Linked DNA regions of Homo sapiens. The protein of the gene in region 2 interacts with the protein of the main gene of each other region in a pairwise test. Each region holds a gene or a part of one and is shown on either strand. Other genes may lie near its edges.

Evidence for each region.
Region 1: the proteins of EHHADH (region 2) and ADARB1 interact in binary tests that used the Homo sapiens proteins (3 or more experiments, as listed by UniProt).
Region 3: the proteins of EHHADH (region 2) and HMG20A interact in binary tests that used the Homo sapiens proteins (3 or more experiments, as listed by UniProt).
Region 4: the proteins of EHHADH (region 2) and NECAB2 interact in binary tests that used the Homo sapiens proteins (3 or more experiments, as listed by UniProt).
Region 5: the proteins of EHHADH (region 2) and CCDC102B interact in binary tests that used the Homo sapiens proteins (3 or more experiments, as listed by UniProt).
Region 6: the proteins of EHHADH (region 2) and ORMDL1 interact in binary tests that used the Homo sapiens proteins (3 or more experiments, as listed by UniProt).
Region 7: the proteins of EHHADH (region 2) and CLDN18 interact in binary tests that used the Homo sapiens proteins (3 or more experiments, as listed by UniProt).

The regions. Positions count from the first base shown.
Region 1 is NC_000021.9:45,181,955-45,186,230, reverse strand, and holds part of ADARB1 (double-stranded RNA-specific editase 1), read right to left. Parts: intron 3,647-4,276; coding exon 3,478-3,646; intron 2,870-3,477; coding exon 2,721-2,869; intron 1,758-2,720; coding exon of another isoform or gene 1,638-1,757; intron 1,309-1,637; coding exon 1,140-1,308; intron 1-1,139. UniProt on the Homo sapiens protein: Catalyzes the hydrolytic deamination of adenosine to inosine in double-stranded RNA (dsRNA) referred to as A-to-I RNA editing.
Region 2 is NC_000003.12:185,232,937-185,237,212, forward strand, and holds part of EHHADH (peroxisomal bifunctional enzyme), read right to left. Parts: intron 2,527-4,276; coding exon 2,354-2,526; intron 1-2,353. UniProt on the Homo sapiens protein: Peroxisomal trifunctional enzyme possessing 2-enoyl-CoA hydratase, 3-hydroxyacyl-CoA dehydrogenase, and delta 3, delta 2-enoyl-CoA isomerase activities. Catalyzes two of the four reactions of the long chain fatty acids peroxisomal beta-oxidation pathway.
Region 3 is NC_000015.10:77,427,045-77,431,320, reverse strand, and holds part of HMG20A (high mobility group protein 20A), read right to left. Parts: intron 1-4,276. UniProt on the Homo sapiens protein: Plays a role in neuronal differentiation as chromatin-associated protein. Acts as inhibitor of HMG20B. Overcomes the repressive effects of the neuronal silencer REST and induces the activation of neuronal-specific genes.
Region 4 is NC_000016.10:83,974,744-83,979,019, reverse strand, and holds part of NECAB2 (N-terminal EF-hand calcium-binding protein 2), read right to left. Parts: intron 577-4,276; coding exon 468-576; intron 1-467. UniProt on the Homo sapiens protein: May act as a signaling scaffold protein that senses intracellular calcium.
Region 5 is NC_000018.10:68,835,606-68,839,881, reverse strand, and holds part of CCDC102B (coiled-coil domain-containing protein 102B), read right to left. Parts: intron 3,134-4,276; coding exon of another isoform or gene 3,119-3,133; coding exon 2,513-3,118; intron 1,177-2,512; coding exon 956-1,176; intron 1-955. UniProt on the Homo sapiens protein: During interphase, forms fibers at the proximal ends of centrioles to maintain centrosome cohesion. During mitosis, dissociates from the centrosome following phosphorylation to allow centrosome separation. Contributes to CROCC/rootletin filament formation.
Region 6 is NC_000002.12:189,774,114-189,778,389, reverse strand, and holds part of ORMDL1 (ORM1-like protein 1), read left to right. Parts: intron 1-2,673; coding exon 2,674-2,825; intron 2,826-4,275; coding exon of another isoform or gene 4,276-4,276. UniProt on the Homo sapiens protein: Plays an essential role in the homeostatic regulation of sphingolipid de novo biosynthesis by modulating the activity of the serine palmitoyltransferase (SPT) in response to ceramide levels.
Region 7 is NC_000003.12:138,019,838-138,024,113, reverse strand, and holds part of CLDN18 (claudin-18), read right to left. Parts: intron 3,542-4,276; exon of another isoform or gene 457-3,541; coding exon 292-456; intron 1-291. UniProt on the Homo sapiens protein: Involved in alveolar fluid homeostasis via regulation of alveolar epithelial tight junction composition and therefore ion transport and solute permeability, potentially via downstream regulation of the actin cytoskeleton organization and beta-2-adrenergic signaling.

The DNA.
Region 1 (4,276 bases), on a different chromosome or scaffold from region 2:
GGTTGAATGAAAATGTAAGAATCAGATAGGATTTACAGCATAGTATCATTTCTGTAAATTAGCAACAAATACTCCAAATAATTCTATTGTGTATTTTTCAAGAGTACACCCCCCTCCCCCACATCACACACACACAAAGTTGACATATGCACGTGTGGAGGTGGACTGGAAGGACAAATAATAAATAAACACATCACAGTGGTCACCTGGGCTGTGGGCAATGGCCCAAAATGTGTGATTAATCCAGCTCCCTGTACTTGAGGTTGCCTGACAAGACCCACTGAAGGAAATCAACATAAAGGGCACACAAACAATGAAAAGATGTGCACGTGCACATGCGTATGCATCAATTTTGACAGCTTCTGGATGGACAGTCAAAACCCACTCACTGTGGGTGCCACAGGAGGGCTCTGAAGAGGGAGGTTTTAAACTTTATCATTGTATGCTTTTTGCCATCTGCTTATGTTACTTTTTTTTTCCAAATAAACATTAGTTTAAAAATGAAAACAAAGAACTACTGGAACTGATACCATCTGAAGAAATGGGTTTTCTATAATCTGCTCTGGATACAGGCCTCTGAAAGATGAATATCTCCCAGGTGCCTGCTGACTACAGAAGTGTGCTTGCAGAGCCCTCCTCTAAGCCTAACCCACACCCAGGCACAGAATGGCTGGGGATGCTCTCTGTGCTTAGAACACAATGCCTGTGACAGGGTTTGCATTACTTTTAAAATGCACATATCAACTACCTAAAATGTTAACTGAATGATGAAAGTGACCACTGAAGTTGCATCTACTACTAATGAGGAGAAGCCAGTAGTTTTAAGATGTCATGGCCTGTAGCCCATTAAAAACATCAGTTTAACCCAGAAGCCCACGTTAAAAATAAGTGGTAAACTCTGAGACGCTTGGATAGGAATGTTAGAAGCGTGGAGCCTCCTGTGTCTAGGTCCTGCTGCTGCCCCTCACGGGGGTCCCAGCAGCACCTGTTTAGAACCTCAGTCCTTCAAAGAATACTGTGGAACACCTGAGTGGGAAATGGGGCCAAAATTCAAATGGTTGTGGAAAAGGGAGGTTGGCAAACAGTATGGATGAATCCTGTGTGCAGGGAGGTGGCCACAGGGAGCCCCCGCCCCTTACCGTGCAATCTTGTCACTGCAGGACATGGTGAGCAGCCGCTCCCCTTGCAGCACCCCGTCCCACGTTTGGATGCTCGCATTGGAGCGCACTGGAATCGTCCCCTCACCAGACTCTATTTTGGTCCGTAGCTGTCCTCTTGCTTTACGATTTGGGTGTCTATCTGCTGGTTCTAAGAGAGAAAAAGAGTTAAAACCCCACAGGTAGTAAACCATCTATTTGATTTATTGAAAAGCACATCTAACAATAGCTTATAAATTTAAAATACAGTCTGTGCATATAAATGCATATGTTTATGCCATACATACAAAATACACATACAAAATAAGTATGTGAAGCTGAGAGGCTGGGTATGGTGGCTCACACCTGTAATCTCAGCACTTTGGGAGGCTGAGGCAGGTGGATCGCTTGAGCCCAGGAGTTTAAGACCAGCCTGGGCAACATGGTGAAACCCCATCTCTATAAAAAATATAAAAATTAGCCAGGTATAGTGGTACATGCCTGTAGTCCCAGCTCCTTGGAAGGTTGAGGTGGAAGGATCGCTTAAGAGCCCAGGAGGTCGAGGCTGCAGTGAGCCATGATTGCACCACTGCACTCCAGCCTGGGTGTAAGAGCGAGACCCTGTCTCAAAAAAAAAAAAAAAAAATTATATGAAATTGAGTAGGAAGGACATAACACAAACAAAATTCACAAAAGTGGTCTCCAAGGGAGTTGGGGAAATGGGGTTTTCACTTTAACTGAAATGATTTATTTCTATCATTAAAAATGCACTGAAGCAAATAGGACAAAATGCTAACATTTGCTAATTCTGGGTGATGGATACTTGGGTGTTTGCCATGTTATTTTCCTCTATATTTTTAAAATTTCCAAAATAAATCTAGACAGATGCAGAAATAAACCCATGGAAAGTATGGTAAAACATCCATAGTGAGTATTTCTGGGTTACAGGAATACGGATGATTTTAATGTTCTTATATTTTAAAAATAGTTAGCAATTTTCCACAGTGAGTATGCCTGTTGCTTTTATAAACAAGGAAAGTAATGTAATAAAACGTTCTATTTGGAATAAACAATGCCTAAGGGCTTGGGAGAAGGGATGTAGATACAAAACACTAAAAAACAAAAGTGCTAACCTCAAATGTAAAGAAGGATGGAAAAAAATATGATCACAATAGTGGTTTCACTTTTCACTAGTGTTTATCTGCTTCTGAAATATCAGGCAAATAAATACTTTAATTACACATTTAGCAAATTAGAATTCCTCAGAAATATGGAGGATCACATACACCTCTGATTTAGAGATATTTATTACCCAAATTTAAATACTGATACAATTTTAATCCAATATTCTCACTCCATTCTAATTACTTGGTTAATTACAATCAGCATTTTTCATTCATTAAAGTTTTCTAATTAAGTTAATTGGAAAGAAAAAAATCCATGCTTTTATAGAGACTCTTATCAGATCCACATCCAAGTCTAAAAATAAAAAGAAAAAAAGGAAAAGGGATATTAACACAGGTTAGTTTTTATCTGTTAACATTTTCTTGAGAAACTGGCTTGTTGAAGAATCTCGTCTCATACCTTCCAGGATTGGCTCATGTGGTGAGAAGATTCTGGCATCTCCACAGGGAGAGGTGCTGATGTACAGATGAAACTGGACATTCTCCTTCAGCCTAAACCCCCCTCGCTCTGATTTCTGAAAGATGGATCTTTTTTGATCATCTTTGTTACTGAAAGGAAAAAAGTTGCAAAAGTAACATTTAAAGCTGTATATAGTTAAATTTTAGTCTATCATTTTCAGAGGCTAGTATTTTCCACAAGGGAAAGATAAGTTTGAACTGGAATATTTATTTTACATGTTTAGGGTAATTAATACAGTTCTTGTCACTCAATAATGGATATGTCATCAGGATGTGAGTAACCTTTCCTTCTTCCAATTTATGACTTCAGAACAGAAAGACCACATACAAAAAATGGCTTTGTAAAGAAAAGGAGTTTGGATACATGACTAGCTCTTTCTAGAAACGGTGACTAGAATAAAAATTACCATCTTTACCTGGCAGTTTGGGAACTTCTATTTATACAGCATACAACAAAATCACATGGTCTTAAACACAGACTTGAAATTTATGACCATGTTATGTTATTGTATGTATGTGTGCATATGTGTGTTGAGCATTGTGGAAGAATGGGATGCAGCCTTATTGTTACTAATTAAAGTTATGATTTTGAGAGATTTTCCATGATTACAGAAACAATGAAAGGTTTTGCAATGTTTTCTAATAGAGGAATATTTTTTAAAAAGAGCTTCCTGTCCTTATTTGTTTACTAAACTTACTTTAAGTAAAGCTCAAGTTGTGTATAAAGAAATCTGAGCAAGGATCTCCGAGATATTATTTCTGCATGGCAGTCATTTAATGCAAGGCCACGATCACTCATGTATTCACCATTAATACATTTTGTTCCTGTAGAAACACTTATCACCTTGGCATCTTTAACATCTGTGCCTGAAAAAAAAAAAAAGAGACACTATTTTCTGTAATTCACAGTAATGTTTGCCTAACTGTGCTCCTGAAGTCTGACTCTTATTCTCAGTGACTTAACTTTTCAGGGGCCAACAGACTTTTCAAGCTCATCTTCATGCATATTCTTACCACCTATTTTTTAAGTGGGCAAATGTATACACGCAAACAACCTCCTATTGAGGACTCACTTTGTGACATTTCTGGAAAGCCAACCATCGTCATTGCTTAGTGTCCAGACACTAAACTCAAGGAAGTCATTTCCTCTGGTATGCAATAGCATCTTTTCTTGAATGCCCACAACTAGAACACAGCTGGGCAACACTATGGAAAGGTGGACTAACTGGTCTGGTAATTAATCTTGACATCAAATATCAAAGTACTGAAGAGATTAGGAAGGAGGGGTTAACGGCACCCAGAGGAATAAGAAGGAAAACAGAATTAACTTGTGATGTTTTCATTAGTAAACTGTCACCATTAACCACACTCGGAGTGAAATCACAAGCAGTGGTGAACTCCCACAGACAGATCACTCCGTCTCAACTTTGTGAGATAAACCACTGACCAGAGGTGTGATGCCAGGACCCTGGAAGTCACCTGCCGGGAAACTCGCAT
Region 2 (4,276 bases):
AACTGATTTTGTTGTTAGTATATTTGCCCTATAAGAAATACTTCAGGCTGTAATGAAAAGGCACTAGACAGTAACTTGAATTCACATGAAGAAATAAAGAACACTGATAAAGAGTAACTTCATGGGTAAATATAAAAGACAGTAATAATGTATTTTTCATTTGTAATTCCTCTTTTTCTTATCTGATTTAGGACCACTATGTAAAGCAACAATGATAAATCTATGTTAAGCAGTACATAATGTATGAAGATATAACTTGTGACAATAATAGCATAAAGGGGCAAGTAATGGAGGCTACAGAGGAGCAAATTTTTTGTATATTATTAAAATTCAGTCAGTATTAATCTGAACTACATTGTCATAAATTAAGATGTTAATTGTAATCACCAAGTTAACCACCATTAAGAAAATAACTAAAAATATATATAGTAAAAGAAACAGCAAGAAAGTTACAAGGGTATACTTTTACATTTAACACAAATGAAAGCAGTAATGGAGGAATTGAACAAAAAAACCAAAAAGCATAGAAAACAAATAGCAAAATGGCAGATGTTCTTCCTTATCAGTAATTACATTAAATATAAGTGTATTAAGTTCTCTAATTAAAAGACAGAGATTGGCAGAATAAAGAATATTTAATTATGGGTTAAATATTATAGTATAAAAATAGAGTATAAACTAAATACAAAAAAAGCCCAAATGTGGTTTTTTTTGTTGTTGTTTGTTTTGAGATGGAGACCCGCTCTGTCACCAGGCTGGAGTGCAGTGGCACGATCTCAGCTTACTGCAACCTCCACCTTCCAGGTTCAAGTGATTCTCCTGCCTCAGCCTCCCGAGTAGCTGGGATTACAGGCGCCTGCCAGCATGCCCAGCTAATTTTTGTATTTTTAGTAGAGACGGGGTTTCATCATGTTGGCCAGGATGGTCTCGATCTCCTGACTTTGTGATCTGCCTGCCTCGGCCTCCCAAAGTGCTGGGATTACAGGCATGAGCCACCATGCCCAGCCAATGTACTTTTTTTTAAAGGACATTTTTCAAAGGAAAAAGAATCTGTAAGAAAAAATTACATACAAAAAAAGACTAGAATGAAATAGAATGTTAATAGTGGTTATTTCTGAACTGTGAGTTTATGATGATTTTAGTTTACATCTGTATACTTTCTTATGTTCTCTAGTTTAGTAGAATGAATATTATTTTCATCATTAGAAAAATATATTAATTACAAAAATGCCACCATTATATATACTGTGATACACAGTGGTATCACAGACCTCATCTGACATGTCTAACAGCCTAAATTAAACCTATTTCCAGAAATTTCCCCATATTTACTAGTTTTGTGCTATTTTCCAATAGAAATTTGTCTTATTAGGTACTGATAATTATAAGGGACCATGAAACAGAAATCTTTGAGTTATCAAAGAAGTATTTAAATGTATACTTAGAAGTGACAGCCAACATATTTAATACTCATACTGCATGAGCACTGCATCAGTGAAACCTGATATGGGTCATAGTACTGGAGGTAGAGTCTCGGGGCTCTCTATTGACTCAGGAGTTCCCCTGTAGCTGATGGATCAGAGAGAGGCCCTAGGGCTAAGGTTAAGGGAAACAAGATCATAGAGAGGCCCTAGGGCTAAGGTTAAGGGAAACAAGGAGTTCCCCTGTAGCTGATGGATCAGAGAGAGGCCCTAGGGCTAAGGTTAAGGGAAACAAGATCATAGAGAGGCCCTAGGGCTAAGGTTAAGGGAAACAAGGAGTTCCCCTGTAGTTGATGGATCATAGAGAGGCCCTAGGGCTAAGGTTAAGGGAAACAAGGGAAACTAGGGCTCAGAGTAGCAGGTGTTTACTTACCAGAATGGAAGTGAAGTATTTGAACATTTTAACAATTAGTACCACTGTACTGGCACGTAACAGCTGAAGTCGTTAACCAGTAAGCTAACCATTCAAAATTATCACCTCTGGGCCGGGTGCAGTGGCTCATGCCTGTAATCCCAGCACTTTGGGAAGCCAAGGTGGGTGGTCACCTGAGGTCAGGAGTTTGAGACCAGCCTGGCCAACATGGTGAAACCCCGTCTCTACTAAAAATACAAAAATTTGCTGGGCATGGTAGCATGCCTGTAGTCCCAGCTTCTTGGGAGGCTGAGGAAGGAGAATTGCTTGAACTCGGGAGGTGGAGGTTGCAGTGAGCCGAGATCACACCACTGCACTCCAGCCTGGAAGACAGAGTGAGACTCCATCTCAAAAAAACAAATAAATAAAATAATCACCGCTGATACTTATGACTACATTTAGAGTTTGCCCTAAAGAAAAGCCCCACACACCAGCCACTATATAGAGCCTTGGTTGTTACCTCTGCGTGGGCAATCCTATAGTGACAGCCCAGGGCCAGCTCTAGTCCCCCTCCGAAAGCCATGCCTTGGATTGCTGCCACCACGGGCTTCTCATTTCTCTGTATTTCATCTACTACATGTCCCAGTGTAAGGCCAAATGTCCTAGGAGCACTGAAGCCACGAATATCAGCACCTAAGGGCACAAAGACAAGGAGAAAACAGAGTTGAGAAATACATGGGCATTGTTATATAACAGTAAGTTACCTGATACTCTTTAAAAAATTAATTTGTTTTATTTATTTCTTAATTTTTTTTAGAGTTCCTGATGACTAAAGTCTCAGACCTCTTTGGGCCCTTACACTTCATCCTTGGCTGAAAACAAGTATATTGGAGAATGTAGAATGCTATGAGAGAAAATCCTTGAATCTTTACCAGGAATTCTGTAATTTTCTAAAATCTATCTTTCCATATAATAAGTAGTAAGTCTATATTTAAAAAAATTAAAAATCTCAGAAAAGGGGAATAGGGACTCTCCTCCAAAGATCATTATTCTGAGATTGAGTCAGCCCCTCTCATTTTTGTATGTGTGATACTGTTAATCAAGTCTATTCACAGCAACTTAGCTCCATATCTTTGTTAAGGGCATGAGTCATCACAATATAAAATATCAGGGTAACATGTATACATATTTATGAGTTATATGTTAATCAAGCAGCTTAGAATTATGTTTTTGTAATAGATTTTTATCTTCAATAAAAATAATATTTATTGCTTTTCCTGATTATAAAAATAACATGTATTATGGAAAATTTGAAAACCACGCAAAATTAAAAAGAACATGAAGATCACCCTAAATATCACTATATAGCCATAATTTAATATTTTGAGGAGTTCTTAGTTTTTTTCCACATGTGTGAGCGAGCATTACAACCTGAGCTCTGCCTTCTGTCAGATCAGTAGCGGCATTAGATTCTCACAGGAGCGTGAACCCTATTGTGAACTGCACAAGTGAGGGATCTAGGTTGCGCTCTCCTTATGAGAATCTAATGCCTGATGATCTGAGGTGGAACAGTTTCATCCCAAAACAATCCCTGCCCCCCCACCCTCCCAGGCCTGCACCCCCACCCACTACCCCTGTCCATGGAAAAACTGTCTTCCATGAAACCAGTCCCTGGTACCAAAAAGGTTGAGGACAGCTGATTTAGAGCATACCATAAAATCATTTTTATATTTTCCTGTTTTCATATAACATTATACATAGTAAGCTTTTTCCTACAGCATTATCTATTCTTTGAAAACACTAAGCTTGGTACAAGTTTTAAAAATTAATTATTTTATATCTAGCCTATTCATCTTTTTTTCCCTTTTTGCTACCTGTTCCTCATCTAGCATCAATCCAGGAGTTAAGCTTTTTTCTCACCAATTCATTATATTTCACTCTCTAGTCCAGTGTTTTGTTTCGTGTTTTCAATTCCTTTTGGTTCTAGAGAAACAAGATCAATTTCAATCCAAGTCTCAAGCCTATCATTCCTGTAGCTTTAGATTGAGATAGTTTTTTAGATAATAACAGAAATGAACAATTATTGGATAAATGCATCAAGCACTGTGCTAAGCAGTTTCATATACTGTGTCATTTAATTTTCATAACACCTAAGTTAAGCAGCATAACAATTCCCATTTTACAGGTAAGGAAGTTAATGCTTTGAGACAAGTGACTACTTCAGACATATGACTAATAACTGGTAGAATAGGGATTTAAACTTAGGCAATTTGACTACAAACCCCACATTCTTAAAAGCTATACTATATTCTTCTACTTACAGCATAAGGTTAGTATGATTATTATCCCAGTTTCTGAAAAACCAAAGCACAAACAGTGTAGTGATTTCACTTTTTAATTATTTCCAGCACATCAAAATCTAATTAATATTGGGATATTGATT
Region 3 (4,276 bases), on a different chromosome or scaffold from region 2:
AGAATCGCTTGAACACAGGAGGCAAAGGTTGCAGTGAGCTGAGATCACGCCACTGCATTCCAGCCTGGGTGACAGAGGGAGACTCCATCTCAAAATAAAATAAAATAAAATAAAAAATAAATAAACCAAGTAGGTAAAAGCAAAAAAACAAACAAAAAAGTTACATTGTATTGTTTTCTGGCCCCCATTATTTCTGTTGACAAGTCAGATGTCAGTCTAATTGTTCCTTTGAAGATTATGTGTCTTTTTTCCTCTGGTTACTTTCAACAGTTTTATTTTTACTATGAAGAATGAAAGTGTGGTACTCCTTGTATTTATTCTGCTTGTCGTTTCTTGCACTTTTCAAATCCATGGCTTGATATTTGTCATCGGTTTTAGAAAATTCTCAATCACTGTCTCTTAAAATATTACTGCTTCTAACTTTCTCTCCTCCAGTCATATGTATGTTAGACTTCTTCATCATTTCCTCATGTCTCTGTAATAGTTTCATATTGTTGCTGTCACAAGTTATCCAAAGCTATTGGCTTAAAGCAATACAAATTAACTTTCTTACAGTTCTAGACTCTGCCTAGCAAACACTGTGAGGGGAAAACAAGTTTTAAAAAAGTTTCTGGGTACTGTCCTTCTCTAGGGATCTTGACCCAAGAACTAGCTACCTGGAGATCTCTAAAATCCAAGTTTTGTCTGCTCCGCCCCATAAAACTAACAGCTTCTCTGCTTTTAGAAGAAACCCTCTGCTAAGTTTCACAGCATCTTGTCATGCTCTAAGAATTAGCAAATTCCTAGGAAAAAAGAGAAGCATGGAACATCAGCCCACTTCTCTGAAGCTCCTTTGGTTCTATGGTTGTGGTTTCTTAAGTCCTGGATGCCTCAGCAGGTCTCTGATGCCTTCACTTTTCTTTTTAATTCTCATCTTTCCTGTTCTTAGCAAAAGCATTAGTCTGCAGCAACCTCATCTCTCAGAGTCATAAGTGGAAACCATAGCTTGGGCTCTGAATAAAAACTCTACTGCTTATTAGTTAAGTGATTCGGCAAGTTATTTAACCTAGAGTATTTAAACATTTGAAGTTTCAATTTTCTTTCATGTAAAATGAACGTTAACACTATCTAATGAGGTTACTGTGAGGATGTGAAGATTAAATGAGACATATTTATAAAATGTCTGATAACAAAAACATTCTTATTGTAGGTTTTGTATGTGCCAAATACTTTATATAGATTTAATAATTTAATGTAGACATAGTTATCCTCCATTTCCTTTTCAAGACCACATATTAGTAAGTGATGAAGCTCAGATTTGATTCTAGAACACCAGTTTTCAATAACTACAAATTGTTGCTTCTATAATGTTGCTTGAGTATTGTTCCTGACACAAGTAAGTGGTCAGTAAATGTAAATTATTATTATATAGAAAATATAAATGCTTCAGAAATAGACACCAATCACATTAGTTTTTCTACTTTTTCTTCTGATGTTTCTCCTTTTCATTTTTGCAAAAACATTCTTACAACATCTTTCAATGTATTCTTAAAGACGCTATTGTGAAAAATGAATGTCTTACAGCCCACTGAGTAGATAGGCAATAATTTGCTTAGGCATTATTATATTGTTGAATATTTAGAAGGTTTCAAGTTTTAGACAGTATAGATATCAGTGCTATTAACATTTTGTGCCTTTAACTATTTTTCTTATTTAAAGTATTTTCTCAGAATGAAGTTCTATATGTGGAATTATTGGCTCAAAAGTATGAACATTTTATTATTTGTTGATATAACTGCTACTGTTATTAAGCCAAAAAGTTATGATAATTATGATGCCATCAAGCAACAAACATGAAGGTTTGTATCAAGAGAACAGGAATTAAAGCTATGAAGTATAGGAATGAAGGACATGTGGACATGGGGGAAAAAAAGGAGATATGAATTTTGAGGCTGGAAAAGAAAAAATGGGGTGCTGGAAATCATTTCTTTTGAAGCAGGCAAGCGCTAGTAATCCCAGCTACTTGGGAGGCTGAGGCAGGAGAATTGCATGAGCTCACTAGCGCCACTGCACTCCAGCCTGGGAGACAGAGCAAGACTCCGTCTCAAAAAAACAAAAAAAACAAAAAAACCCACCATATTAAATTATTATTATTTTGTTTAGTAGAGATGGGGTCTTGCTATGTTGCCTGTGTTAGTCTCAAACTCCTGGCCTCAAGCAATCCTCCTGTCTCAGCCTCCCAAAGTGTTGAGATTATAGATACAAACCACTGTGCCCGGCCAACATATTATTTAAAAATTATACATATAAATTGCAAAACAACCACACAGATTAAAGGCCTATGTTCTAGAGGCTCCCCCCTCCTTTTTTTTTTTTTTTGAGACAGAGTCTTGCTCTGTAGCCCAGGTTGGAGTGCAGTGGCTCGATAACAGCTCACAGCCTTGAACTCCTGGGCTTATGCGATCCTCTGGCCTCAGCCTCCTGAGTAGCTATGACCACATGTGTATATACCACCATGTCTGGCTATTTTTTATTTTTTTGTAGAGACAGCATCTCACTATGTTACCCAAGCCGGTCCCAAACTCCTGAGCTAAGGCGATCCTTCTGCCTTGGCTTCCCAAAGTGTTGGGATTACAGAAGCCACCACACCCAGCCTAGAGTCCACTTATTTGGTGTGTAATCTCGAGCCTTGAATTGCCTTATCTATAAATTGGGATTAAATTTTATAATATCCGACTAAAGCCAGAATTGGAACATCGTATCTCTTGTTTTATATTCCTGATATTAAATTTGTTTTGTGAGTATACCATACTTCAATAAAAATGAAGGAATCTCTCCTTTTTTGCTGATATGCTTTGAATGTCTTACACGCTATGCTTTGAATATCTTATCTTGTGATGAATATCCTGTTAAGAATCTTATGTCAGACTTTAAGTTACTATTTTAAAAGGTTACTTTACTTTGTGGGATTCTCTGAAGGCCAAGCCATTTGCCTGCTCTTTCTACAATCACATAAATCTTACTGGGTATACCCAAAGGCCGTTGCTTTTCTACAGCTGCCTTCCTCCTTCTTTGTTACCATCACAGATTTTGGGGTAGTAGGTACCTGATCATCAGGGAGAACACAGAAGGCCTTGAAAATGTGGGTTTAACCATACCAAGATCTTTCGCTCTGTTTATGTACTATAGCCTCCCCAGTAAAAACAAAACAAAACAACAAACAACATCTCTGCTAAATGCTTCATTATGAACACAGGTAAGTCAGTGCTTGATTGTCCCAAGTTCCAGTTCAGATTTTCCACTTTCCATTATCCTCCAGTAAATTTTAGTAGTGATACTGAGGGATCATGCAGTATGAGAATAAACACTGGCCTTAGAGGATCTGCATTCAAATCCTGTCTCTACCACTTACTGGTTAAGTGATTTTGGGCAAGTAATCTAATCTTTCTAAATCTTATTTTTCTCATATGGAAAAATGCCAAATTATTAGAATTAAGATAACATGTAGTGCCTAGCACAATACTACATAAATGTTAGTCAAGTGGGAATTGGAATTATGGCTCAGTGTGGTCTGAATCTGAATATTATTCAGAAAATAAGGACAGCAGCACTGAATAAAATTTTTTTTTGAGCTGAATAAAATTAGAGAATTTTGATTTCTAGGATCCTCAAAAATCCATATCCTTTAAAGAAGCCATATGGGGTAACATGTATAAGGGTCCTGAATTCCTTCATGTTCCAACAGATCCAGGTTCCAAGGTATGGAAACACTTATCAGATTATAAGCAAAGAGAACAATAATTTTATGTGTGTTCAACTAGCCAAATATTTTTGCTGGTAAAATCGTGGTGAAAACAACATCCTTATACATTGCTGTTATCATTAAAAATCAGTACAATCTTTTAGGGAAATGTAGGTATCATATCTAGAACTACCCATGCTTGTAGAACCATTAATCACACTCATAAGATTTTATCTTCAGAAAAAAAGTCAAATAAGGAAAATAGCTATAGTTTTATTTAATAGTGCCTGGCACATAAAAGGCACTCAAATATTTCTTCAAATGAATACCTTTATTTGTACTGACTTCTCCAAATCACTGCCCTTGGTTCCTTCTCATTAAGATTTATCTATTTTTATTACCTGAGGAGAGCTTTAGAATCAAATTCTAACATCTTTGTCTAGTCTCTATTCTCCCATCTTCCCCAGTAACTTTGTTTTGATTGCTACTAGACTCCTTACCTTAGAATACTCCCACTCTTTAAACTCAGCTGACCGTAACACAGAAACCAAAAAG
Region 4 (4,276 bases), on a different chromosome or scaffold from region 2:
ATAAGCTATAATGATAGACGTAGTGTTGAGTTAGGATTCGTGTTTGGTTTAACACAGGAGTCAGTGTTAGGATGACGTTCAACCTCACAGTTAATGTTGGGACTGGGAGGACACACAGGCATTGGGGTTGGGGTGAGAACTGGCTGCTGGCTGAAGATGGCAGAAGGATGAAGTCATTGCCACCTTCCCATTTTCATAATCCCATGTCCACTGTGCAAAACCAGGAGTCTCTCCTTAGTTGGCCATGTGCACTCAGAAGACACACTTGCGATAGTAGCCAATGCAATATGAATCTGCACACGCCCCATTCACCCCAGGCAGTGAAGAGCTGACTTCTGGATTAGCAAATTTGGGGATTTTCAGTTCTCCTGCCCCTTACAGGGGACTAGGAACGGACACTAGATGAAAAGATGCCTCCACCACAGCCCACACACACCCCCACTCTGCCAGCCAGGACTGAAGCTCACTTGGTGTTGTCAGAGTCAATCGTGTGAAAGAGATCCTCCAGTTCTTTCTCATTAAGGACGCCATCTGCAAAGAAGAGCTGGAATTCCTCCAAGGACAGCTTCCCATCATCTGCAAGGAAGGAAGCAGAGAAAGGAGCTGGTGTCTGCAGAGATAAGGCTGGTGGGGCTAGTGCATGCACGGCCCCCAAATCCAGTCAATGGCCTGACTGACAGAACAACTGCAGCTCAGATAATCCCTACCCTCCCAGCTAATCCCCAAACTAAAAGACAAATTCCATTTTAGATAATCCCTACCCACCCAGCTAATTCCCACACTAACCAGTAAACTCCAGTACACAGAGAATCATGCCTCATCCAGCTAATTCCCAGACCAATGCCTGTTTACAGATAATCCTCAAACTAACAATAATGCAATAGCTAGCTTTCTTGGGCTCACCATGCACTCAACATTTTCCATGCGTTCAACAAATATAGAGTATCTGCCCCCTGCCAGTGAATTTTCTCTCAATTTACATGGCCACCTGGAGGCAGGTGCTATTTAAGATAACCCACTGTGAGCAACTTGTCCCATGTCACACCATCGGTATGAAGTGGATCCAAAAACCAGCAGCTGGATGAGCCACCACTCCATAGCTTCCAAACGCCAAGTGGTCTCTGCATGCTCCCAACCCCAATCCCAGCCCCTAAGCCCTGACTCTCTCAGCACTGTTCTTAGAGTACAGAAGAACCCTTTCTTCTCCGCCCCATCTATGTGGCAAACTTCAGGTCCTTCCCTGAGGCAGCATGAGATGGCTGCCAATGGCCGGCATGAGGTTCTCAGTTACCTCCTCTCCCAGGCCACAGATGCAGCCATCTAGATGCCAAGCCATGCAGGAAGGAGGTGCCAGGCCTGGAGGTGCCAACGCTCTGGCCAGAGGCTGTGCTTCTGAGGTGGAGCTCCACAGAGGGGCCTCCACAGCTCCTCTGTGGAGGGGCTCTGTGGAGGGATGGGTGGGACACATGCCACCAGTCCCACCCATCGCCTCACCTTTTCCCTTCACTTGCAGTTGCTCTGGGGACACTTTTGGCCCTACCAGGAAGGTCTTGTGGGTTTGGATCAGATTGGGCCACCAGGGGAGGTGGCTTAAGAACATCAGGGACTCTGGGAGGCGGTCCCTAAGCTTCCACCCTCAGCTCCTTCCACCTGAACAGACCTGCTGAGCAAATGCCAGCAAGCTCATCCCCCACCTGCCCTGCAGCCACCTCCCCCCTCCTCAAGGATCTGTTCCTCCTTAAGAGAAACTATGTGAGTGGCATGGAGGTCAGAGACAAGAGGGAGCCCATGACAGTTCCTGGCCCCCAGCCTCTCTGCATAAACCCCTGGCATTACTTCCAGAGGATCTGCATTCAAAGCTGGGTGCTTGGGACAAGGGCCCTGAGAGTCCACATGGCACCTTCCTATGGATTAGAAAAAGACTCTCCTTTCTCTGCCGAGAGGATGAGACCAGTGTCAGTGCACATGTGTTGAAAGCGGATTGCAGCCTGGATTTGAAACCCTCCATTTCCTCGGGTGGGTGCCCTTGTGCAGCGCACAACCTGCCTAACCCGACATGGCAGACGTACTTGGGTTGAGAATGAGTCATTCTTAAACTTTAAAGGCTCCAGTGCTTCTGTCTGTGCTCCCAGCAGCTCTGCTGGAGCTCAACACAGGGTGAGAGCATAAGCTCAGGAGAGGGGGGGTCCTCAGATCTTGCCAAGGTTTCATGCCACCACTTTTCTCTTTAACCCCATAGAGCATAAAGTATCAGAGACCGGTAAAGAATATGAACGTGTGGGCACGGGGGGCTAGGGCCAATATCCCAAGATGCCCCCATCGCAGCTCAGATTTCAAGGTTACAGTGGGAAGAATTTCTGTCTTTCAAAGGAAAGGCCAAAAAAACCCCAATCCAACCACACATGCACAAACCAAAGACCCAAAACCTAACAACTAAAAGTCCGCAAAGTCAGCCACGAGATAAGTGAAATCGAAGTTGTTGCTTTCTGTGTTCTGTGACAGAGGATGCCTTCCGAGTGTCTTCGGCAAGCCTGAAGATAAAACCCAGGAATCCCAGTGTGGAGTCACACCACACGTGGAGTACCTTCCACGGACTCACTCCTTTAGTCTTCTTAACACTCACGACACAGGTAGTACTACCACTTCCATGTTAGAGAGGGGTAAACTGAGGCACAGAGCCCTTAGGGTACTTGCCTAGGTCCTACAGCTGAAGCTTGAACCCAGGCCATCTGGCTCCCAAGTCCAGGCTCTCAACCTAATCCAGGGGTAGGATCTTGTGGCGACATCGCCACCTACCCAGCAGGGGGTGGGTGCTGGCTCAGGCACCCCCACTTTGGGTGAGGGGCAGTCACCATGGGCATGACAGGGGTTGTGAGCCCCAATCCCAGCCTCCCTCTGGCTGGCTCATCTCCCCACGTGCCTGTCCAGGTACCTTGGGCCCCCTCTGCACACAGGGAGAGCAGGCAGCCAGAGACCAGCAAGGTGCCCCCTCGGCACACAGGGAGAGCAGGCAGACAGAGGCCAGCAAGGTGCCCCCTCACTAAGCTTTCGGCTGACATTTATCCTGAACGCCTGATCACGGCCCTAATGAATTCACTAATGAGGAAAAAACATGCCCTACGTAGGCCCCCAGTCCAATTAGACAGGCCAAGCGGGCCCGCGCTGGCACTTTTGCCAGAGACCCCAAGCGGGCCGTTTGCAGGTGTCTTTGCTAATTAGCACAAACTCACTCTCTGTCTCCATGACCTTTCAAATGCCAAGAGCCTGTCAGCCTGTCAGCGTCCATGTCCCTGAAGGGAAATGCTGTCTGCCACTCAGCCCTCTGCCACCCCCTGAGTTTATGTCCCAGGCTGCCAGTCAGGCCCCTCATGCTAACCTTCCCATAGGGACTGGGCATCCGGTATCCAGCTCAGCCAAACAAGTCTCTGTCACAGGAGCCACCCTGACAGGGCAGCCCTGAGCCTTTGTTCCTGTAATCTCTAAGTCCTAAGGGCAGCCTGGGGGGTCCTTTGAGTTTGCACCCCATCTCCCGCTCCCCTGAGGCATCCCATCCATCCTTCCTGTGGACACGTGAGGCAGGGCTAGCGTCAGTGTTGAGCAGTCCTGTGTGTGCTTGTGGGCCTATCGGCCTCCACATCTGCACCCCCTGCACACCTGTTCTCATCCCTGCACACCTGTTCCCATCCCCGCACCCACACCTCCCTGCACACCTGCTCTCATCCCTGCACACCTGTTCCCATCCCCGCACCCACGCCTCCCTGCACACCGGTTCACATTCCCGCACCAACACCTCCCTGCACACCTGTTCCCATCCCCGCACCAACACCTCCCTGCACACCTGTTCCCATCCCTGCACCCACACCTCCCTGCACACCTGCTCTCATCCCTGCACACCTCCCTGCACACCTGCTCTCATCCCTGCACACCTGTTCTCATCCCTGCACCCACACCTCCCTGCACACCTGCTCTCATCCCTGCACACCTCCCTGCACACCTGCTCTCATCCCTGCACACCGGTTCACATTCCCGCACCCACACCTCCCTGCACACCTGTTCCCATCCCTGCACCCACACCTCCCTGCACACCTGTTCCCATCCCCGCACCCACGCCTCCCTGCACACCTGCTCTCATCCCTGCACCCACACCTCCCTGCACACCTGCTCTCATTCTTGGATCCACACCTCCTTGACACCTATTCTCACCCCTACACTCATTCCTCTTTCCCCAGCCATTCTATTCCCACACCACTCCCCTATCTATACCCACACCAAGTCC
Region 5 (4,276 bases), on a different chromosome or scaffold from region 2:
GTCAGACTTTGAGATTCTCACCACCGATAAGTGGGTCTGACTTTTGAGGCAGAATCATTCAAATGGCGTTTTCTTCTCTCTGTGTTCTTAAGATGTTCACTTGCAACCTAGCCCCAATGTTGTGAGGAAGCCAAGCACCCCCTTAAATAGCCCCAGTGCAGGTGTCCCAACTGAGGCATAGATGAAAACCGAGATGGACTGCCAGATATGAGTGAAAGAGGCTGCAGCCCCCAGCCTTCCATGCATTGCCAGCCTTTGAGCCCTTGCAACTGAAGGCACAAGTGAGAGATACAATGTCCATGCCAAGCCATGCTCGCGATTCTTGAACAGAAGACAGGGTGGTTGCTGTTGATATGTTTTAATGATAATTACTTGGAAAAGTTTGTTTCAAGATAATAGATAACTGGAACATAACAGCACTACAGCTATTTTCACAAAGGGGCAACAGCCAACATCACATAGCTAGAAGACATCAGACCAAAGATGAATATCCAGGCCAATTAAGCAAAAGCCTGATGCCCTTAATGGTCCATGTATAAGACTACTTTTTCTGTAATAAATATCTCACAAAATTGTGATTTTTCCACTATTAATATTAACATATTTATTCATTTTTACTGACCAAGTCCAAGATGCTGTCAAACTTAAATAATACACTGGATATTTTAACCTTGTACATTAAGAATTCATATACAATTAAAGTGAATCTACCAGAGAAGATAAAAACATAGTCATGATAAAAGTCAACTTAAAAGAATGGAAAACACTAACAAGTTATAAACTACATTTTAAAATTCAACATATGAATATATATCAAACTAATTTCTTTAAATCCTAAAACTTAATGACTAAACATGGATAAAATACATTATCAAATGACCAATCTATCTGTATTAACAATTTTAAGTGATTTGAAACTTAGACTTGGTTAAGGGAGACAATGATTAGCACTTACTCTCTTTCCTTCCATAAGATTTTTTGGAATTCATCCAAATGCACCTGCAAAGCTGAAATTTCAGTTACTTCATTTTCCAAAGGCAGATTTATTGCTTTCAGTCTCAGCCCAGTTTTCGTTTCACCGTTTCCAGAACCACCATTGTTGAATAAATCAACACCATCTAGATTGGGCTTCATCTCCTCACTTAATTTTAGAGAATCAATAACCACACCTTGTTCCTGAAGACAAAACAAAACAAAACATATTTAAACCTCCTGGAGAAAAATCATGATGACAAAACATTTTCATAAAGAAATAAATGTTACGATACCACAACCAATTCATATTTTTATTTCATTATCATTCCCTGAAAGTGTTGTGTGGCCACACTTACTTGCATTCTTCTTTGAGCTTGTTTTTTTCTATGTTCTACTTTCTCATAAAAAAAATACATTTCTCAAAAGTTCTGCTTTAACTCTTGTTTGTTCTCTTTTTCTAATCGCAGCTAAAAATAACTCTGCACAAACTTGAACAGCTGTAAATAATTTTTAATGAGTTGATGAATTCCTCTTTCAAGTTTCTTTTGTCATAAGACACTTACAGTTTCAAAGCAATCATTTTTTAACATTTTTGAAAGACAAGATAGAATTTTCAGGAAGCTGTTGAATATTTTAAAAAGCTTGCTTATTGCTTCATTTTAGTTCCCCTTATTGCTTTAATTCATGAGTCACATCTAAATAGAATTTAATGGGGCGCTTTAATAAACATGGACATCAGTACTAGAGCAACAACTGCACGACACTCTTAGAGCGTAACTCAAAAACTTCACAGGACTCATGCTATTGGTATTTGCCTACAATTTAAATTTGCCCTGGTTTATAAGTTTGAAATGAAAGACAATTTCAAATAAAATCTCAATGAATAGTCAAGTTCCAGTAAAATCTCGATGATACTTCACTTTTATTTTATTTTTTAAGTAGTATGTGGATTCCAGGTTACCTAGGATGATTCATTCCTTAATTCTCTCAAGAATGAGCATTGCAATCATCTGTACTATAATATTTTGACAAGCAATAAAATAAGATGTGTTGTTCACGGAAAGTATTGAAGTCAGACGAAGGATACATATACATATCTTTCTTGTTAGGTCTCCTAACCCCCAGTACCTCAGAATGTGACTGTTGGTGGAGACAGGGCCTTTAGGGAGGTGATTTAGTTAAATTAGGGTCATTAGGGTGGGCCTAATGATGGTGCCCTTACAAGAAGACCTTAAGACACAGACATGTGTACAGAGAAAAGACCATGTGAAGACACAGGGAGAAAACGGCTTTCTATAAGCCAAGGAGAGAGGCCTCAGAAGAAACCAACCCTGCTAGCATGTTGATCTTGTACTTCTAGCTTCTACAATTGTAAGAAAATGAATTTCTGTTGCTTAAACCACTGTGATTATGGTACTTTGTTATGGTAGCCCTGGCAGGCTAGTATAATCACCATTGCATTTGTCACTTCCTTCTTCCTCCCCATCACTATATATGACCTTCAGAAATTCACATCATCTCTGGATTTTTTTCTTACCTTATTATTTGTGTCCTCCTTTGTAGAAAATTGTCTTTTTACCAAATACTCTCTGATAGACTCATGCATTTGTGAACTCAATTGAAATTGGTCTGTATGTTCACAGGATTCTTCTACGAAGCCAGGAAGCTTCAGATCCTGGGTAACTTTAGCTTCTAATGCCTCCTTCTGAGGTGGCAAACTCTGTTTCTTTTTCAGTGTACTCAATTCTTTCATCGCCATCTCTAGTTTTATTCTGAGTTGTCTTCCTTCCTCCCTGGCACTGTTCCTTTCAGCTCGAACTTTACTCCATTTTTCTCTCCAGTTGGCAGTGCAGTCCGACCACCACCGCATGGTCTTTTCCATCTGAGCAGCTCTGGCCTTGACTTCTTCAAGCTCCCGCAGGCGAAGTTCTTCACAAATATCCCATTTGTTGGTGTTATATGAGTGAGCACAGAAATTGTGAGCAGCATGAGATTGTAGCCCATGAAGTGGGAAGCAGGTATTACAGGTATCCCTGGGGGGTGAGGCAGGTGCCACCATGTCGCCGCGTGACTTAATTGATGATTGTTGCATCTGGAAGATCTGTGTTTCCTCAATTAATCGATGTATGGAATCTAAATTCATATTTATTTTTAAGACCTGAGAAAAGATAGAGACCATAATTTCACGCTGAAATTTCCCTTGTAAATACAGGAACAAGACCTACACTTTTTTTTTTTTTTTTTTTGAAAATTGATGAAAACAATGCTTTTTTTTTATTTTTGACAGAGTCTTGCTCTGTCACCAGGCTGGAGTGCAGTAGCATGATCTCGGCTCACTGCAACCTCTGCCTCCAGGGTTCAAGCGATTCCCTTGCCTCAGTCTACTGAGTAGCTCGGACTACAGGCATGCGCAACCACGCCCAGATAATTTTTTGTATTTTAGTAGAGATGGGGTTTCACCATGTTGGCCAGGATGGTCTCGATCTCCTGACCTCGTGATCCACCCGCCTCAGCCTCCCAAAGTGCTGGGATTACAGGCGTGAGCCACCATGCCTGGCCGTGCTTTTTCAATATTGCATATTTTTCCAGTGTAACTAAAAATACAGAGGAATTTAAACACTTGTAACTATCCACTAAGAAACAGAAAATGCTCGTATTCAATTTTGCCAAATACAAATAAAAATATAAAGATGCAATTGAAGATAGCATATGACATAAATAATTCATTTTGACAATTCCAGTTCTACTTAGGTCATATCTATTGTAACATTGTCCACTACGAAATACAAATTGTAATATTTATTGTCCACTAACTACATAATGGTTTTCTTTATCCCTGCGAAGCCTCAATTTGTTCAGGCAGAATGCACAACCTATTGATCTATAGGTTAACAAGCCTCTATCCCAGTCCCAGAGGTTGAATCATAGTCTACATTTTCCATGATGCCCTTCATCTGTTGACTATTGACTAGTCTCAAGGCAGCCATAGGGTCTGGCTCTGGCGGCTGGGATGTGAGATGAAGGGTACTGAGAAGATTTCCCATCTAGAAAAATATGAGAACATCACAATGAGGAACTCTCTTTCCTCTGCCTTCCGTGTGTTTGAATAAGGACATAGTTCTGGAAGAAGGTGAGTATAACAGCCTTCTCATAACATTCAAAATGGTGAATCATGAAGATAAGAGACTGATTTAAGGTGCGAATTATGGCATGACACGTAGAATGCATACCTCTGAATCCTTTGCTATGTGAGCAGGATAACCTATATTTATTTAAGTTATGATGGTTGAGTTTTCTGTTA
Region 6 (4,276 bases), on a different chromosome or scaffold from region 2:
GGAGTTTCACTCTGTCACCCAGGCTGGAGTACAGTGGCACGATCTTGGCTCACTGCAACCTCCCCCTCCTGGGTTCAAGCGATTCTCCTGCCTCAGCCTCCTGAGTCGCTGGGATTACAGGTGTGCACCACCATGCCTGGCTAATTTTTGTATTTTTAGTACAGACAGGGTTTCACCATGTTGGTCAGGCTGGTCTCGAACTCCCAACCTCAGGTGATCTGCCCGCCTCGGCCTCCCAAAGTGCTGAGTGTGAGCCACCACGGTTTAGATGCCATCCCTGTACCACCACCACCCCCTAACCGTGTTTCAAGTTGGTTGACCATGGACAAATGATTGGTAATTGACATTGTATAGAAAAGCAAACTTCTGATTTATTTGTTATTAGTTCACCACACTAAAAACTTAATTAGCCATCGGAGTTGCAATTACATGACTCCAAATTTAAGTTTCCTTTGAATATAGCCACATTAAACCAATTAAAAATCTGAAGTACATATTGAATGCCTTTAAAAATGAGAAAATGGACCTAATTGTTACACCCGGTTAGAAAAATACAGTATATTTGCCTTTCTGAACCGTACAGTAGAAACCTACAGTGGTTGCTTTATTAAGTGCTACCTCACCCTTAGAGGTATTAATGCTTCACAGGATTCTTGGCCCAGCTTTAAAAATGAATGATTCATTTTGATTCAGTAGGTATTTAGTAAGGACTAAGCATGAGCTACATACTTTTGTTCTCTAATTCTTTTAATGGAGGAATAATAATCACAAACATTTTTACATAAAAACAATTTAAAAAATATTGGGGCAGTAGATATATGGCCAGATAAGATTTTATTATTTTTCACTGAAAAGATGTATAAAATAAACTGTTTTGATATTCTAAACACTAGTTAAGTACATATGGTTTGAAGGAAATAATGAGAGGATGATTATTCTCTTATATTCTAATATCTATGTGGTCTGGAATAGATGTTCTTAACTTTTTGGGGGTCCTATACCCCCGATGATTTGAAAACATATACTTTCTGTTTTATAATTCACTTTAAAGTCCATATGAAAATGGTTTCGTAGAGCTTACAGAATAAATACTCCTTGGCGTAATGTCATCTTCCAACATTTCTAATGTTGGAAGTGTCCAATGTCTAATGTCTTGCGGTGTCCCAGTGCTTATTCCGAGTGTATTCAGGCTAATGGGAAAACAAACATCATGCAAACAACTCTAACATGATATATTGTACTGTAATCGTATTTTCAATAAAATTGTATACAACTACATAAAGAGGAGATTAATTATTACTAATGAGGTAGGTTTTTCTAAGGAATTGTTATTTGAGCTGAACCTTTAAGAATGAGGTAATGAAGTAGCATCAAGACTTTTGGCACAGCAACAAGGAACCTTTCCCTCCCCTGCCATTTGCTGAGTATTCTGATTGTACCTTTGATAGCAATTTCTGCCCTACTTTCTAGCTGTTTATGCATTTTTTTTCCTTATCATCTCTTGGAGGATTGAATTTTTCCAAGGCTTGGGTACATCTCATTCAATTTCATATGTGCATATATGTCCTATGTCTTGTACATATAAGCCACCTATTAAATGTTTGATGGGTTAAATCCAATTGAACATGAGTCCTTTCCTCCATAGCTTACGTGTTATTGTAGCTAAACGACTTCTGAATTGCCTACTGGAATAACTAGGAAGTAGACTAAGCCTTGAAAGGAAGGGCTTGGTTAAGTTGGTATCATATAAAATTTCAAATCCCTAATTTTTCTATATAATCATTAAAAGTAGAGGTAGGAAAAATGACATCACATTGTGGCGTCTAGAAGGAAAAACTTTGTGTCATGATAATATTTAGGCATTATCCCTTTACATAAAGTGCCTCAAGCAGTGATCCTGAATGAAACACTGCCTATGAGTCTAAATGGGTATCATAATCTCAAGGAAACCAAATCTATAGATTGGTTTTTTTCTACCCTATTGATAAAAAAAATTATATGTTTAGACATATGATCTGACAGAATGGCTTTTAGTAATGTTATTTGCTTTGAGTTTTTAAAACTGACTTCAGAAGAAATGCTATTGAGGCACAATAGCGATTTAAAAAGGGAATTGAGTGGAACATTATACCTATTATATCAAACTATTTTTATTGCTTTGGAAGAGAACTATTAAGGCAAAGGCAGTCATCATATTAAATATCTCAAAACTATTTTTCCCAATAGATTTTAATCATTTTATTGTTTTCTACCACTTTGTATGTCTTTATCATTTTTTAAGTATCATCAAATTTACTAATATACCCTGAAGAAAAACCTCCTGTACATTGGGGAAAAAGTAATCCTATTTCCTAATAGGAAAAGTGTAAGAAAATCTGAATGTAAAGATATGAAGCTACCCTGATAATTATTTTTAGTTTAACGAATAGAAATGCAAACAGGTTACTTTCAGTTGACCTTTTACCAATTCTCACTTAATATTTTTATACCCCAGAAAGTTCTATTTTATTATAAAGAAACTGGCTACAGCCTTTCACTATTATATGAAAGCTTAAAACGAACTCAGTTAAATCACACACTCTCACAAACAGCTTGGAACCTCGTTAATGCTACTGACAAAGACTAATTTTGTATTTAATATTGATCATTTATAACCCCTTGCTTGTTTTCCAGGGGATGTACGTATTTTTGCATGCAGTGAAAGGAACACCTTTCGAAACTCCTGACCAGGGTAAAGCAAGGCTCCTAACTCATTGGGAACAACTGGACTATGGAGTACAGTTTACATCTTCACGGAAGTTTTTCACAATTTCTCCAATAATTCTGTAAGTGGCAGAAATTTTTAGGTATGAGGAGGATTGGATAAGAGGAAGATATCTTTTCATCAGATTGAATTGGAATTAGAAACATATTTTGTTGCAAACTTCTATCAATAAGTAGCACCTCGGATAGAACATAAAATATAGACAAAATTTTTAACAAGTTGATAATAAACTAATTTTCACTTCAGTCAGTACATATACGGAGACAATATTACATGCTAATCAGTGCACCTAGACATTTAGGATATACAGGTCAAATGTATTCCAGCTCCCGTCCTTAGGTTTCATATAAGGACACAAAATACATAATCATATTCTATATTGCACTGTCAGATTAATCTCCTTAAGCAATGATTTAGATAATGAGAAGAATTTCACTGGCCACCTATCCTATTAAGATATTCAGACTCCTTGGGAAAGAGTATGGTTTCGAAAAAAGTAGGTCAGGCTTTCATTATAGGATAGACCTGGGTGGAGTCCTATATATATCACTCAGCCAGCTTGGTTTGCTCATATATAAAATTCTAGCTAGTGATACCTAATTCAATCCTAATGCTGTAAGAAATAAATGAGATAATAATCTACCTGGATAGCATGTAACCTGTATCTGGTATCTAATTTCTTTCTCCTATCTGATGTTCTGGGCCTTCCAGAAAATAGTTCTTACCTCCTTTTCCCTTGATGTAAATATTTTATCCCCACCCAACTCCTACCTGGCCTTCTAAGCAGCATTTCTTGAATATTTCATGTGTAGTCCTATTTCTGTCTTTGTTCAAATCAGTTCAAATCATATCTCCTACCTGAAATGCCTCCTCCTTTTTTCCCCAGCTTTACTGAGGTATAATTGACAAATAAAAAAATGTATATATGTTTTATTTTGTCTCTCCAAAGAATTTATAAGTGCATGGATTGCTTTGAATCCCACAGTAAGTACAGTGGCCTACACATAATAGAGGTATTGCTCATATATCTTAATACTCTGTACCATCTAGCCTATACATAATAATGTCCATGATAGAGTCAGTGCAGCCTGGCATAGCACAAAAGACTTCTTGGAGGTGTTGGAAATCCTTATGTTAGAACTTAAGAGAGACTAGGTTTTAGATATTTAAGTAAGGGAAGGCATTTTTAAAGTGAAAGGAATAAACTGATCATAAAATAATGGGGTTCTTTTTCCTTAATTTATAGCCCTTTGAGGAAATTTTGAATTGATTTAGTCCCATATAATATTAACCTCAAAGAAAAGTGTCAGTGTAGTCTGATAAAAATAAATGTAAGCTACATGGGAAGCTGAGGCAGGAAGATGGTTTGAGCCTAGGAGTTAAGAGGCTGCAGTGAGCTGTAGTCACACTGCTGTACTCCAGTCTGGGCAACAGAGCAAGACCCGATTTATTAAATAAATAAGTGAATGAATGCATGCATGCATGTAATAACAAAAATATTGGTTATTCAGA
Region 7 (4,276 bases), about 47 Mb from region 2:
GTCTTGAACTCCCGGACTCAAGTGATCCTCCTGTCTTGGACTCTCAAAGTGCTGACATTATAGATGTGAACCACTGCACCCAGCTAAGAACCTCTTATATTGGGGTTGGAGTGGCAGCTAAGAAGGACCTTAGTACTCATGATACACAATTGGACCTCCACACTCAGATCATGAATCTCAGTATGAAAAGTTCTGAACCACATTCAGCAGTAGGGAGGAGTCATGTTTTCTCTACCAGAATAATTTTGCTTTGACATTCGCAGAAGTGGGAACTCCAGGCTCTGTGTTTACCTGAGACAATGAACATGATCCCGGAGGTCAGTGTCATGTTGGCTTTGGCAGAGTCCTCCATGCTGCCAATGCGGATGCATTTCAGGGCAAAGATGGATACCAGGAGGCCAATGGCACCCAGGACGATGCCTACGATCATCAGGGCTCGCACTGCCTGCAGCATGGCTGTGGGACAAGGGGCAAGACACAAGCAGACAAATAAGACCAACTCAGCACACTTGATTAGGCTGTGGTTTAATAAAACAAAGCAACCACAACTAACCTGCACCAAACCTCTGAGAGACAGCAAAGTCCATAAACTGTGAACCTTGCCATTGTCAAAGGATGTGGAATTGTGGGAAATACAAAATACATTGCTTACAATTCTCTGACTGATGAAGGACATGCACTCAGATGTCTTCAGAATCAGAGAATTATGGATGGTTGGAACTTGGGGGGGCCCTTGGATTGTATCTATTTCAGCTTCCTCATTTTTAAAGCTTGATAATCTGGGGGTTGGAAAGGGGAAAATAGTTTGCCTAAGGTAAGAGTTCAAATTACTGATAGAGCTTATAGCTGTGACTTCTAACCTAAATATTTTTCTTCTCTTGTGTTTCCATATGCGCTAAAAGTTTCACATAGTTGTGTCCACTTTAGGAAACCCGGAATTCATTTATTGCATATGATGAAGTCAAGGTTGCTAAGTGATATACCAAGGATACTCAATTTTGTCCCTTTCCAGAAGGAACTACTAAGATTATGGTGAGCTGTAGGTTTCAGATGTATATAAAACAATATAACAATATTAGGCCTTTCATCTAGACTACAGTTTATCAGCAGTTTCCTTTCTAGGAATCAGTCATAGCTATAGGCCCTACAGGGACTCTTCTGCAGTGCCTTCACCTCCAGATATATCCAAAGTTGTTTCTAGTGCATCCTTAAATTGCAGTGACTCATAGCAACAATTGTTTACTGAGCCCTCCTGACTGGCCATGGGATGACAGTAGTTAACAACAGGTCAGACATGGTCTCTGTTGTCATGGAGCTTATGCCAAAGTGGCGAATGACAGTCACTAAGCATGTCTATTACAAGTATAATTAATTTAACAAGGAAGACAAATTAGTCCTTCATGTGTTCCAGAAGGCAAGGCCCCTAGTGTGGTTGGTCTGGTGGAGCTGAACTGCAAAACTGTGTGGAGATGCTTATGTGCTAGACACCAATTGTTTTATCCCTCCAGTATATCCCCTTTTTTCCTCTTAAGTCCGTGATTTCTGAAGGAGTTGCTGTGTCTTACATCAGTGCTTTTCAAACTACTTAAAAATTTAAATTTCTAATCTGTCACAAATTGACATCCTGACAAAATACAAAATCACCTGCTTGAGTGTCACAGGCATGTCAAATTGTTATAAATGTTTAGAAATATTTATTCTTGATTTCGGTACCAGAACTCTTCAGGTGGGTAACACATAGTTTGTGGGCCAGCTTGGTACACAGGCCCTACTTTGAGTAGTAATATTGACCTTGATCTCTCAGGCCCAGACTTTACACCTGGTGCCCTTGACCATGGCAAATTAATCCAGCATGGGCATCTGAGTCAAACTGGGCAGATGAGACCCTTATACAGAATGTTTGTGCTGGACACAGAGAGCATCAGGCCAGTCTCTCTCCAGGGGCTGAAAGTGTAAGATGCTGTCCTTGGGAGTCCGTGGTTTCCTTCAGGTGGTGAGCTGCTGTATAATGGCAAGCAGATGAAACCCAACAGTGAGGTAGAGAGCCCTGACAGTGTTTGAGCTCCTGACTCCAGCTTTTCCTATGGTCCACATACATTCCTTCCTTAGGTTTCAGGTGCTATCCCAGCACCATTGTTATTATTATTATTTTTAAATCCCTACCTGTTTGAACTAATTCAGGTTGGGGTTCTGTTACTTGAAATCAAGTGGTTCTAACTTATGGAAGATGGTTTCATCAGTGTCTAGACATGCTAACCTTTAAAGTCTTATTGTTTTTGGAGAGTTTCCACCCCTCCAGGTTCGAAGCCATTACCAGAGTGCTGCTGAAGCCCCTTGCAGATGTGAGGGGACCTCTCATGCCAAGTCTTATGGCTGCAAAGACATCGCATTCCACAGTGTGGTGTCAGAGAAGAGGTAAAGGGCATAATTTTTCTTTTTTGGGAAATTGCTGATTTTTTTTCCCTAGTTATATAAGCAATAACTGTTCAATATAAAAATTTCAGGATGTATAGAAAACCATAAACAGGAAATGAAAAACAATAACCTGTTATTCCAACTCTTGGAGATAGCCACCTTTAGCATCCTGGTGGGTAGTTTTCCAGGAAGGAATTTTTTAAAAAGGAGAAACAAAACCCTAATGAGGCTCCTCCTGTTACCTAGACCCAAGGGAGCAAGTCAGAAGCCAGCTAGAAATGCAGATGGAGACCTTGCCAAGTTTTAACTAGAAGGGGCTTGTGGGGTACATTCAAAGGAGGTGTCATTCCTACCCTCAGTGAGACCAGTTAATAACATCCAGGCAAAATTAAAATTTGGGAATGGAAAAAAAACAGGAGAAATGCTTAACACTTTTTTTTTTTCTCTTTGAAGGAGATACTGAGGGAATCTGCCTATAGGGCTGTAGGCAAAGGGCTCAGAGGAAACTGTAAACAAAACAGAGTTCTGTCCAGCCCTAGTTTTCATAGGCAGTTGCTACTTTTTAGTGAAAGCTAGTAAGGAATTTTCAGACATTCAAAAATGTAATCCATGGGGAAAAAACCCCTACAATGTAAGTAATAAAATTATCACCCATTTTATGGTTGAAGAAATGGAGACTCACGTGAGGTAACTTGCCTAAGGACACACACCAAGGGAAAGGAGGCAGAGCTGGGAGTCAAATCCAAAATTGCCTCAAAATCATTACTTTTCCATCACAGCACATTGTTTTGAGGCACCTTATTCTGGAAAAACAGGTAAAGTCCTGGCTTCCATCAAGGTACAAGGATCTGTATACTCTTACAGAATGTATCCTCCAAATTTGGAGACTCAACCATAAACTATCATCCTCCGAAATGGATGCTAAGAATGTGGAAGAAAACATTCTCCAAATCTTCTTAGGGAATAAGCTGGCCTGGTAGATTATTTATAAATGTAACTCTCAAGATGACAGCATTCCCATCTCCTCCAGCAGTCCTGGGAGAGAACTCTCTCCAGTCACCTTGGGAAGATTTCCCTCTCCTACAACAGCTAACATCAGTGGAGCTGCCAGCATATTCACTCTAAGGTGTGTATGTATCATAAAGCAATTTTTCATGCCAGAAGAATCGGCAATCAATGAGAAATTTTGAAAAAGGAGAGTTAGATAATGTAGAACTTGTTAAAGTGCCTCCTGCAATATCTGAGGAGCAGAGGCCCTAGCAGCCTTCTCACCAGATATCTGTCTGAAGTATGAATGACAGTGTCCACCTATTCTAGTTCTATCCCATTGATCTCCATATACTTGATTCTGATTCTCTTCTCCTAAAGAAACTTCTGATTTTAACTTTGCTTCTTTGCTGGGAAGAGAATTCTACAAACAACGATCAACAGTCTTGGTCCCACTGGCAACTGTCATGGGAGCAGGTGCCAGTAAGTGGGAGGAAATTGGCTCCACTGCTCATTGCCAGAAACCCCCTATGTCTAGTAATGACCACGGAGATTCATGGTGGTAAACTCACCTTCCCCTGCACCTGCATGGTCCTACCCTCTGGGATCCTAATCTTCTCTATCGATAAGTAAACAGAGAAAACTGCCACAAAGCAAGTAGCAGGTAGGTTTCTCTTTTAGCCATTCTGTCTCTTACTTGATATTCTGATCAAGAGGCTTATCAGCTGATAACAGGTGAGTCAACAGGCTCTAAAGCCTGATTCCCTGCACCAAAGGTGTGACTACAGCATTCTTCCCAATGAACAATGAAGTGTTATCAGACCTGAAGGGTGGGCAGGATTCAGGGCTGAAAGAAGCAAACAGAAAAATAGGA